Homo sapiens: one gene and its partner. Each later gene encodes a partner of the first gene's protein in a complex. Each region holds a gene or a part of one and is shown on either strand. Other genes may lie near its edges.

Region 1 (5,030 bases):
TCACCTTCTGTGGATAACCAAAACTTTCCTGTATCTGAAGGTTATTTGAAGGCAACTCTGTGGTGTACTTAACCTGCTTATATAGTGGTTACAAAAAAAGTAAATTTGTATATTGAGATGTTTTTGTATCTTGAAGCTAAGTGATGCTGCTATCTTTTTAAGAATGCTTTCCAACTAAAACATTCAGGTATCTTGGCACTTATATGAAAACGCCCCCCCCCCCCCATCCCACTGAAACTTGCTGAAAAATCTTTCCTTCTTTTACCAGTTGTGGACATCGGATACCCAAGGAGACGAAGCTGAAGCAGGAGAAGGAGGGGAAAATTAACCGGCCTTCCAACTTTTGTCTGCCTCATTCTAAAATTTACACAGTAGACCATTTGTCATCCATGCTGTCCCACAAATAGTTTTTTGTTTACGATTTATGACAGGTTTATGTTACTTCTATTTGAATTTCTATATTTCCCATGTGGTTTTTATGTTTAATATTAGGGGAGTAGAGCCAGTTAACATTTAGGGAGTTATCTGTTTTCATCTTGAGGTGGCCAATATGGGGATGTGGAATTTTTATACAAGTTATAAGTGTTTGGCATAGTACTTTTGGTACATTGTGGCTTCAAAAGGGCCAGTGTAAAACTGCTTCCATGTCTAAGCAAAGAAAACTGCCTACATACTGGTTTGTCCTGGCGGGGAATAAAAGGGATCATTGGTTCCAGTCACAGGTGTAGTAATTGTGGGTACTTTAAGGTTTGGAGCACTTACAAGGCTGTGGTAGAATCATACCCCATGGATACCACATATTAAACCATGTATATCTGTGGAATACTCAATGTGTACACCTTTGACTACAGCTGCAGAAGTGTTCCTTTAGACAAAGTTGTGACCCATTTTACTCTGGATAAGGGCAGAAACGGTTCACATTCCATTATTTGTAAAGTTACCTGCTGTTAGCTTTCATTATTTTTGCTACACTCATTTTATTTGTATTTAAATGTTTTAGGCAACCTAAGAACAAATGTAAAAGTAAAGATGCAGGAAAAATGAATTGCTTGGTATTCATTACTTCATGTATATCAAGCACAGCAGTAAAACAAAAACCCATGTATTTAACTTTTTTTTAGGATTTTTGCTTTTGTGATTTTTTTTTTTTTGATACTTGCCTAACATGCATGTGCTGTAAAAATAGTTAACAGGGAAATAACTTGAGATGATGGCTAGCTTTGTTTAATGTCTTATGAAATTTTCATGAACAATCCAAGCATAATTGTTAAGAACACGTGTATTAAATTCATGTAAGTGGAATAAAAGTTTTATGAATGGACTTTTCAACTACTTTCTCTACAGCTTTTCATGTAAATTAGTCTTGGTTCTGAAACTTCTCTAAAGGAAATTGTACATTTTTTGAAATTTATTCCTTATTCCCTCTTGGCAGCTAATGGGCTCTTACCAAGTTTAAACACAAAATTTATCATAACAAAAATACTACTAATATAACTACTGTTTCCATGTCCCATGATCCCCTCTCTTCCTCCCCACCCTGAAAAAAATGAGTTCCTATTTTTTCTGGGAGAGGGGGGGATTGATTAGAAAAAAATGTAGTGTGTTCCATTTAAAATTTTGGCATATGGCATTTTCTAACTTAGGAAGCCACAATGTTCTTGGCCCATCATGACATTGGGTAGCATTAACTGTAAGTTTTGTGCTTCCAAATCACTTTTTGGTTTTTAAGAATTTCTTGATACTCTTATAGCCTGCCTTCAATTTTGATCCTTTATTCTTTCTATTTGTCAGGTGCACAAGATTACCTTCCTGTTTTAGCCTTCTGTCTTGTCACCAACCATTCTTACTTGGTGGCCATGTACTTGGAAAAAGGCCGCATGATCTTTCTGGCTCCACTCAGTGTCTAAGGCACCCTGCTTCCTTTGCTTGCATCCCACAGACTATTTCCCTCATCCTATTTACTGCAGCAAATCTCTCCTTAGTTGATGAGACTGTGTTTATCTCCCTTTAAAACCCTACCTATCCTGAATGGTCTGTCATTGTCTGCCTTTAAAATCCTTCCTCTTTCTTCCTCCTCTATTCTCTAAATAATGATGGGGCTAAGTTATACCCAAAGCTCACTTTACAAAATATTTCCTCAGTACTTTGCAGAAAACACCAAACAAAAATGCCATTTTAAAAAAGGTGTATTTTTTCTTTTAGAATGTAAGCTCCTCAAGAGCAGGGACAATGTTTTCTGTATGTTCTATTGTGCCTAGTACACTGTAAATGCTCAATAAATATTGATGATGGGAGGCAGTGAGTCTTGATGATAAGGGTGAGAAACTGAAATCCCAAACACTGTTTTGTTGCTTGTTTTATTATGACCTCAGATTAAATTGGGAAATATTGGCCCTTTTGAATAATTGTCCCAAATATTACATTCAAATAAAAGTGCAATGGAGACCTTGGGGTCTTTATTTCCAGGAGAAAAGATACCTTCTGCATCTAGGGCAACAATCCTTTTCCCTCGCAGCTCTTTCTTTTACCTCACTTACTGATTTCTCCTGACCCCCAAGCCAAGGAGGTAAAATAATTATATATATATATATATATATATATATATATATATAAAGTAATTATATTTTATAGCTAGACTGAAGAGGTGGGAATTTTTTTGTTGTTTTTTTTTTTTTTGGAGACAAGAGTCTTGCTCTGTCACCCAGGCTTGAGTGCAGTGGTGCGATCTCGGCTGAGTGCAACCTCCGCCTGCTGGGTTCAAGCGATTCTCCTGCCTCAGCCTCCCAAGTAGCTGGGATTACAGGTGCCCGCCACCACACCTGGCTAATTTTTGTGTTTTTAGTAGAGACAGGGTTTCACCATGTTGTCCAGGCTGGTCTTGAATTCCCGACCTCAGGCAATCCGCCCATCTCAACCTCCCAAAGTGCTGGGATTACAGGCATAAGCCACCGCGCCCAGTAGAGATGTGATATTATTCAAGTAAATAAAACCTGAAACTTGGCACATTTGCCTATTTAATGTGCATCAGTCATCTGAACTAGGTTGATCCTGGAATAATGAAAACACTTCACTAGTATTAACTAATGTTTTCTACATAGTAGTTCCCAATAGATTAAGGAAAATTTCCAACCTGAGATTCTTTGTTTTGGAATTTGAATAATGTGTTTGTAACTATTCCTTGATTGTCCCAAATCCAGGCTTTACGTCTGCTTTTGTCAATGTAACATCCTAGTGCCAGGAAATTGGAAAATCCAATGACTTTTTGTGTGTAAAGTACTGGAATTTTTTTGTTCGTTTGTTTTTAAGACGGAGTGTCAACTCTCGCCCAGGCTGGGGTGCAGTGGCCTGATCTCGGCTCACTGCAACCTTCTCCTCCCAGGCTGAAGTGATTCTCCTGCCTCAGCCTCGCAAGTAGCTGGGACTGCAGGCATGTGCCACCACTCCTGGCTAATTATTTGTATTTTTAGTAGAGAGAGGGTTTCACCGTGTTAGCCATGATGGTCTCATTCTCCTGACCTTGTGATCCGCCCACCTCGGCCTCCCAAAGTGCTGGGATTACAGGCGTGAGCCACTGTGCCCACCCTGGTATGTTTTTTTTAAATTGGCCACTTAAGAGTTGTCCTTCAGAAAGTGGAGCAGCAGTGTGATTAGTAAAAACGATGGGCTTTCCTGCAGCTCTGGCTTATGGTCTTTGTTTTTCCAGTTAACAGCTGTTACTTCATGCTGTTATAGGGGGTGGGGGGAGAAAGAGAAAGAATATGTCTAGTGGCTTAATTTTGGGGCTCAATTTGTTTATTATGTTTTTCCTGCAAAAGAGTCACCAGTCTTGTCATGGCTCAATGCATATTTTAAAATGAGTCAAAGCCAATTTGGAAGCTGCTATCTTAGGTTATTTGTAGTCAGGCTTCAAATGGAGAGTGAAACTTTGACTTTGAAAACTGGTGCTCTATGCTCAATGATGGTCTTACACATTCCTCTAGGGAAAGGTCAAGAAATAAATTTGGCTTGATTGTATTCTCTCATTTACCATATAGGAAATACTATGGTAGAACTGAAAATATGTACAATAGTAAAGTGGTGGCTGAGACTGGGCACTTGGAAAATAGACTTGGATTCTTTTCTAAGTGTGAAACTAATTAAATACTTTTATGTGACTGGTAGTAGTCACAGTCTCCTTGATTGATTCTAGTTCCTTTTCAAAGTGGAGAGACCTGAATATAGATTGTAACAGGATGTCCAACCTTGCCAGACAAGCAGGCATATATGTCTCTGGGATGCAGAAGCAGTTACAAGTTAATATATTTAAGCATAATGTTAGCCAATCCTAGGTGATACCAGAGATGTGAATATTTGATCATATTTGAGTTCATTCCTTGAAAGTCCAAACCTAACTGGTCTTAATTGATTACTTCTTAGTATTCCGAATTTTAGAATTTAAAACCCTATGAATTTTCAGTTTGTGCTTACATTTTCTAACATTGGATGTTTGCTTTGGCCAGCTGCTGTTCTGTGTGTTTTCTTACAAAGGCTTAGAGATTCTGGCTGGGTGTGGTGGCTCACGCCTGTAATCCCAGCACTTTGGGAGGCTGAGGCGGGTGGATCACCTGAGGTCAGGTGTTTGAGACCAGCCTGGCCAACATGGTGAGACCCCATCTCTACTAAAAATACAAAAAATTTAGCCGGGCATGGTGGTGCGTGCCTGTAATCCCAGCTCCTCGGGAGGCTGAGGCAGGAGAATTGCTTGAACCCGAGAGGCGGACGTTGCAGTGAGCCAAGATCATGCCATTGTACTCCAGCCTGGGCAACAAGAGCAAAACTCTGTCAAAAAAAAAAAGGGCGGGGGGCGCTTAGAGATTCATGTTTGAGTGAAGATTTGCAGAATGGGACCCAAATGGATATACAGCACAATCAAGATGCAGGGAATTAAGAACTTAACATGTGCTTGTAGGTTTGGGTTTGGGGGCTATGTGGGAGTATAAAAAATAGGCTATGTCTAGACTCCCGAGGGGAACTCGTTTTAAATGCCTATT
Region 2 (7,032 bases), on another chromosome or scaffold:
TTCCTGCGCCCACTCTGTCCCTTCGTACTGCTTCTTTCAACCTAGACAGGTCTCAGTTTAACCCCTGCCCATCTGGATGGCATGAACTCCCAGGATGAGTGCCCTCTCAGTCAGCATGAAAGCATGAAAATGTGACAGAATGAAGGTAGTGCATCAGTTTTATCCAAACCCTTTGTTTCTATTTTATTTTATTTGTTTTAGAGACAAGGTCTCACTCTGTTGCCCAGCCTGGAGTGCAGTGGCATGATCATGGTTCGCTGCTAGCTCGAACTCCTGGGCTCTAGTGATCCTCCTGCCTCAGCCTCCCGAGTAGCTGGGACTACAGGCATGAGCCACCACGCTGGGCTAATTTTATTTTATTTTACTATGTTTTTTTTGTAGAGACGGGGTCTTGCTATGTTGCCCAGACAGGTCTCAAACCTGGCCTCAAGCAGTCCTCCTGCCTTGGCCTCCCAAAGTATTGGGATTACAGGCGTGAGCCACCGCACCCAGCCTCCCATCTTTAAGTTTACTTGTACCCAATGTTTAGCTCCCACTTATGAGTGAGAACATTCAATATCTGGTTTGGTGTCTTTTTGGTAGAACAATTTATTTTCCTTTGGGTATATACCTAGTAATGGGATTGCTGGGTCGAACGGTAGTTCAGCTCTTAGTTCTTTGAGAACTCTCCAAATTACTTTCCACGGTGGCAGGACAAATTTACATTCTCACCAACAGTGTGTAAGTGTTCCCTTTTCTCTGCAGCCTCGCCAACATCTGTTATTTTTTGACTTTTTAACAAAAGCCATTCTGACTGGTGTGAGATGTTATCTCATTGTGGTTTTGATTTGCATTTCTCTGATGATTAGTGATGATGAACATTTTTTCATAAGTTTGTTGGCTGCTTGTATGCCTTCTTCTGAGAAGTGTCTGTTCATATCTTTCGCCTACTTTTTAACGGGGTTATTTGTTGTTTTGCTTGTTGATTTGTAGACCTTTCTTAAATGCGTAGTTTGTGAATATTTTCTCCCATTCTGAGGGTTGTCTTTGTACTCTCTTAATAGTGTCTCTTGTTGTGTAGAAGCTCTTTAGTTTAATTAGGTCCCATTTGTCATTTTTGTTTTTGTTGCAATTGCTTTTGAGGACTTAGTCATAAATTCTTTCCCAAGGCTGATGCAGAATGGTATTTCCTGGGCTTTCTTCTAGGACTCTTATGGTTTGAGGTCTTACATTTAAACCTTAATCCATCTTGAATGAATTTTTGTATATGGTGATAGATAGGGGTCCAATTTTATTCTGCATATGGCTAGCCAGCACCATTTATTGAATAGGGAGTCCTTTCTCCATTACTTACTTTGTTGACTTTGTTGAAGATCAGATGGTGTTAGGTGTGTGGTTTCATTTCTTGAGGTCTCTTTCACAACTTCTCAACTCTGCCCTATTACTCAAGAGCAGCCATAAACAGGACCTAAACAAATGATCATGACTATGTTCCAACCAAACGTTATTCGTGGACACTGAAATTTGAACTTCATATACCTCACAAAGTATGATTTCTTGTTTTATAACCATTTTAAAATGTAAAAACCATTCTTAGCTTGCAAGCCATACTCAAAAACAGGTGGCCCACAGGATTTGGCCCCTGTGCCATGCTGACCTTTGCTCTACACCCATGACCTGTACTTGAAAGTTGAATTTTTATGAGATAGTGGGAAGAACATGGTCCCTCATATTAGATCCGAGTTTTCATCCCAGCTCTGCTGTGAACCATGTAATTGTGAGAACGGCCCTTCATTGCCTCCAGTGGTGTTTCTTTGCCTGTAAAATTGACCAGGGTTAGAAGTGAAGGGGGAATTGAACACATTTTTTTAGGATTCCCTTATTTAATCCTGTGAATTTACAAAGGCAAGGTGGCATGGGATGCAGGCACAAAGCATTAGAACAGCATTTTCAAGGTTTGGCTTTGGGTCCTGATTCTTTTCTAACTTGGAGCAAGTCATTTAAAGCCTCAGAAAAGAGTGGAGTGTTGGAATAATTGGTATCTGAGATTCCCTCCAGCTCTCAAATTCTGTACTTTAAAATGACAGCATTATTAAGACAAATGAATCATTTCAGCTCGTAGAGATTAAATGAACTGCTTGTATATATCATATTCCTGCCCCTGAAGAGCTCAGAGTTGGTGGGGAGGGCAGACCAATGCCTTTGCCTTAGCAGTGCCTCTGTGCCAGGATGCTGGGCTCCCAGGAATCAGCTTCAAAAATCAGATTGAGGATACAGTGGGTTCAAGGGTAGCTTCTTATGCTTGTTTTTTGTTTGCTTTTTTCCTTTTTGTGGAGAATGGGGTCTCGCTATATTGCCTAGGCAGGTCTCAATTTCCTGGGCTCAAGCTATCCTCCTGCCTCTGCCTCCCTAAGAGCTGGGATTACAGGTGTGAGCCACCACACCTGGCAAGGGGTAGCTTCTTAAAGGTGGTGACACCTGAAGTGAAATGGCAGGGTAAGCAAGGAGAGCCTAATGAAGGTCTCAACGTTTACATGGGAAACAGTGATGTTCGAATAGCTCAACCTAACGGAGTGAGTAAGAACTTATTCCCAGCTACTCGGGAGGTTGAGGTGGGAGGATCCCTTGAGCCTGGGAGGCTGAGGCTGCGGTGAGCTGAAATCGTGCTACTGCAGTCCAGCCTGGGTGACAGAATGAGACCCTGTTTCAAAAAAAAAAAAAAAAAAAAAAGAAGAACTTAAAGTTTGGTAACATTTTTAATAAACTTTCCCAATCTTTGTGTACTGATGTCTTTAAAAAGAATAGGTTGCAAGTTAAAGGTTTTCACTGATTTTTTCTTGATCTGTTTACTATTTAACTATATTTTAATTTCTTCTTTGACTACAGTTGTCATTTGCTTTTTCATTTTCTTTCTGAGGTGAAGCTAATGCTCTGTCAATGCTTTTATGAAAATTCATCTTATTTACGTATACAAGAGACTGTCACTCAGAGACAGCAAAGCCAAGCTGACAATACCCCTTCTTTGCCCTCTGCATTGTAGGCAGAAAATTCCGTAAAAGCTAAGAGATGTCAATACTATCGTGTTGCCCTGTGTAGGTGGACAGATCCCAAATGGGAAGCTTTCCAAATTTTTTTTTTTTTTTTTTTTTTTGAGATGGAGTTTTGCTCTTGTCACGCAGGCTGGAGTGCAGTGGCTCGATCTCGGCTCACTGCAACCTCTGCTTCCTGGGTTCAAGTGATTCTCCTGCCTCAGCCTCCTGAGTAGCTGGGATTACAGTCATGTGCCACCACATTCCAGCTAATTTTTTTGTATTATTAGTAGAGACAGGGTTTCATCTTGTTGGCCAGACTGGTCTCAAACTCCTGACCTCAGGAGTGATCTGCCTGCCTTGGCCTCCCAAAGTGCTGGGATTACAGGCGTGAGCCACCGCGCCCAGCCCTAAATTTTTTTTAAAAGACATCAATGCTGCTATTCTCTTGTTTTGCTTATGAAAACACTGAACCGTGAAGAGGTTATATTCATTCATTCAGGTTAAATGTTTGAAGGTTCTTGCTTGGAGCACACTTTTCTTAGAAACAGTATTGCACATGGTGGTCAGATTCTGGGACTAGCCTGTAAGAAGCCTGGTTAACACAGTTTATGGAACCATTCACCATTTTAAACATTCGGGAAAATTCTGTTTCTGAAACCTAAAACCGGGACTTTTCTTGTATTAGAGCAGTGACTTTTGCTTTCATCCACCTCTGAGTAGCATCTTGGCCAGATGTAGGAGAAGCATCAACTTGGAGTGGTGAAGGTGGTGGGGCTGTGGTGAGGAAGGGGACAAAGGGAAGATCAGGTGGCTGCAGGGAGAACCGGGATGCTGTGTGAAGGAGGAGGCAATGCCAGCAGGAGATCCAGCAACACTTTCACTTCCTTTAGGCTTCTTCCCTTTCTACTTCTGGCCGACGTAAGACCCAGGGATGCTGCTGTGCTCAAGGCCACCTCACTCCTTCAGTGGACACAGGGTTAGCTTGGCTGCCTGCTTCCCATTTCCTTACCACCAGCCTTCACATCCGCCCGGGCCTTTCAGCTTGGCTCACTGCAGATTGCAACCGCTTACTCAGCCTTTCACCCTGTAGCAATCATAGGTAACAGGAAGGAAGCACATGCTAGTTAAAATTGTAAGAACTTAGCTTTTCTATTCTCATCCATGGTATGTTCCCACTTTACTTGAGCTTGTGACAAAAGTCGCCCATGTGTTAATATGCCATCTTGCTGGAGAGGCATCTGACCTTGCCAGGCTTTGGCTCCAACTTGCTTCCAGCAAAGCTCCTTAGGACTTCTAATCTTATTTGGTAAAACAATAAAACAAAACAGAACATAACCTTGTATCCCATCTATCCCAGATGGAGAAGTTCTTGAAAATTGTCCAGCCCACTTCTGCATTTCTACTTTCAATATACTTTCCGAGTATATTGTCTCATATATTTTGAAGGAGAGAGTAAAGTCTGTATGTCCTAAATAGTGGTTCCCACGAACCAGTTAAAAAAATTTGGAGGACTGACATGTGTTTGCCAACATTTAAATTTTTCCAAGTAAGAGTATTATAAGTAGAGAAAGTGAGGAAAATCGAGAGAGAGAAAGAGAGACAGAGAGACAAGAAAATCAACAACCAGCCACCTATTGCCATGATTTCTTAAAAAGGAAAGTTTTATGTTAAAAAAAAATTAGTGGGGGACATAACCTTAGAATGAAGGGCAGATCTTCACATACAGAAAATGTGTGCAAAAACTCATGACTTGTTATTTATTTTTCCCATTTCTCCAAGGATGAGTGAAAACTTTATCACACCAGTCAACAGAGTTGTGTTTGAGAGCCTCTGATTGGAACCGCCCTGCAGCCCCTTCCCACCTTTCAGCCACTGCTTCACGTGAGAAACGAACCTTAGTAAAATTATCAAAAGAGCAAACGTAGATAAACTCATAAGGGAAAACTCTAGTTAGGGAAGGATTTTTTAAAAAAATCCCAGTGGTGTCCAACACATGGTTTTTCTCTGAGCTGTTCACGTTCCCTGGCACACCATTGTAGCAGCTGCCACCCACCGCACACAAACTGACAGCACTGCTGCTTCTTGCTTTCTTGGATAATGGGTCAATTAAGGCAAAACTATAATTTTTTTAAAAGAGCTTAACTAGAAAATCGGACGGAAAAAAGCAAAATCAAAAAGAAAACTCCAGAGCACAAAATTAGTTTTTAGAGTACCAATTTCTTACCCCACATCATCAGCTGCATGTTGTCATGACCGGCTCTGCTTCCTGGGCTGCCAGGATCCTGGTTTCTTTCCTTAATTTGGTCACCTGTTGTCTGCTTGAGACATTATCAGTTGGTAGTTCGAGCTGGTTCCATCTCTGGGTGAAGCCTGTGCATTATATAAGCGCATAACACAGGCTTGTCTCACCCGTGGCCTTGGCTGGAGCCAGCCTTTTGGGAGTTCTCTGTTTATAGGGCAGTTCCCCTCTGGTGGCTATAAGAACTGTGCCCTACTTCCTGTTTCAGAGGTCTGGTTAGAGGCCCATTCAGTTCCTGTTTCTGGTTTGCAGGATAAAATTGGTTCACACTTTCTTTGTGGAGCAGTGGGAGATGGACAAGCACAAAGTCCGGGAAATGTGCAAGTCTCTCCAGCATGAGGTACCAACCGTGCCTGCTTTCCAAGTACTTCCTCCAAGTGGTCCCTTCAAACACCACTCCAAGCCAGGAAAGTAGAGAACCATAGGAAAATGCATTATTGGCTACTGACTCCAGGGCTGACAGTGTGCTGTGCAATGATGGCCCCTCCCAGGAGGCCATTCGAGGGCCTTTTATCACACGCTCCCCTTTCTGTCACCCATGGAAGCCTCACTGTGGCTGTAGAACATGCCAGCATTTGCCCCGCTCCACCTGGGGCAAGATGAGAGTGGGAAATGTGGTGGAGGTGGGCAGTGTTGCAGGAACCCACAGCTATGTGGTTATCAGAAGAAACTGGGAACCCACAGCTTTGGGAAAAATATATCTTGAAGACAGCCTCATCTTCCTGTAATTTGGATATAGGTAGGTGGGGAAACTGGCTAGATATGAGAAAGATACCCTCATTTTCAGGGAGTAAAATTAAACTTGAAAATTTTATTAGTGGCATAAAAGGGAAATAAAGGAAATCAAGGCAAAATGATAAATTAAAAATCCATTGGTGACTCTGATATATTGGTTTGTGTAGTTGTGGGTTTTTTTTTTTTTTAAGAAGATCTTGCTCTGTCACCCAGGCTGGAGTGCGTTGGCATGATTTCGGCTCCAACTGCAACCTCCGCCTTCTGGGCTCAAGTGATCCTCCTGCTTTGAGCACAGCCAAGCCTGGCCAATTTTTGTATTTTTATGTAGAGATGGGGTTTTACCATGTTGCCCAGGCTGGTCTCAAACTCCTGGACTCAAGCGATCCTCCTGCCTCAGTCTCCCAAAGTGCTGGGATTACAGGCGTGGGCCACTGCGCCTAGCCTAGTTGTTTTAATGTATTAGTTTTTCTCTTTGGCTAAAGGTATTGACTAGAGACACTAATCGAAATATGTGCCAGGTTAGTGGAAAAGCAGGAAGGATATGAGACAAAGCTGATTTTCAAAATCTTGTCTAAGTGTTCAAAAAATGTAAATAATTGATAACTTACATTTCATATGAATTTTATTTTGTAGTGTTTTTGGTTTTCCAAAGGAAAACAGAAATAACTGAAACTACATTGTGATAATTTTCTTAGGGGAGACAGGAGAGAGAATTTTAAATATTAAGGGCATTTCCTATTTAATAAAATCATAGTAGAGCAGATCTGTATAACTTAAATGCCACAGAAGTTGCACAGGGTAACAGAAAACATTCCACTATAAGCAGACCTTTTCTGTTACAGTAGTTCATCAACAATGAGGAAAGCAATTGCCTTTGGTATATGATTCATACAGGAAGTAAGTTATATTCCTTTGTACTGGCAATCTCCAAAAATGGTTGAGACCAGTTATACCAGTACTTTCCAATACTTGTAGCCTCTTCTACAC

The links.
Region 2: the proteins of YWHAZ (region 1) and MAP3K5 are in contact, whole or in part, in a crystal structure (PDB 6EJL), measured with the Homo sapiens proteins. Residues at the interface, in NP_001129171.1 of Homo sapiens: Val46, Lys49, Asn50, Arg56, Lys120, Arg127, Tyr128, Glu131, Gly169, Leu172, Asn173, Val176, Tyr179, Glu180, Ile217, Leu220, Asp223, Asn224, Leu227, Trp228; in NP_005914.1 of Homo sapiens: Ser964, Ile965, Ser966, Leu967, Pro968, Val969.

Annotation. Positions count from the first base shown.
Region 1 is NC_000008.11:100,915,991-100,921,020, reverse strand, and holds the end of YWHAZ (14-3-3 protein zeta/delta), read left to right. Parts: intron 1-268; coding exon 269-328; 3' UTR 329-4,498; downstream 4,499-5,030.
Region 2 is NC_000006.12:136,782,478-136,789,509, reverse strand, and holds part of MAP3K5 (mitogen-activated protein kinase kinase kinase 5), read left to right. Parts: intron 1-3,455; exon of another isoform or gene 3,456-4,095; intron 4,096-5,235; exon of another isoform or gene 5,236-5,463; intron 5,464-7,032. UniProt on the Homo sapiens protein: Serine/threonine kinase which acts as an essential component of the MAP kinase signal transduction pathway. Plays an important role in the cascades of cellular responses evoked by changes in the environment.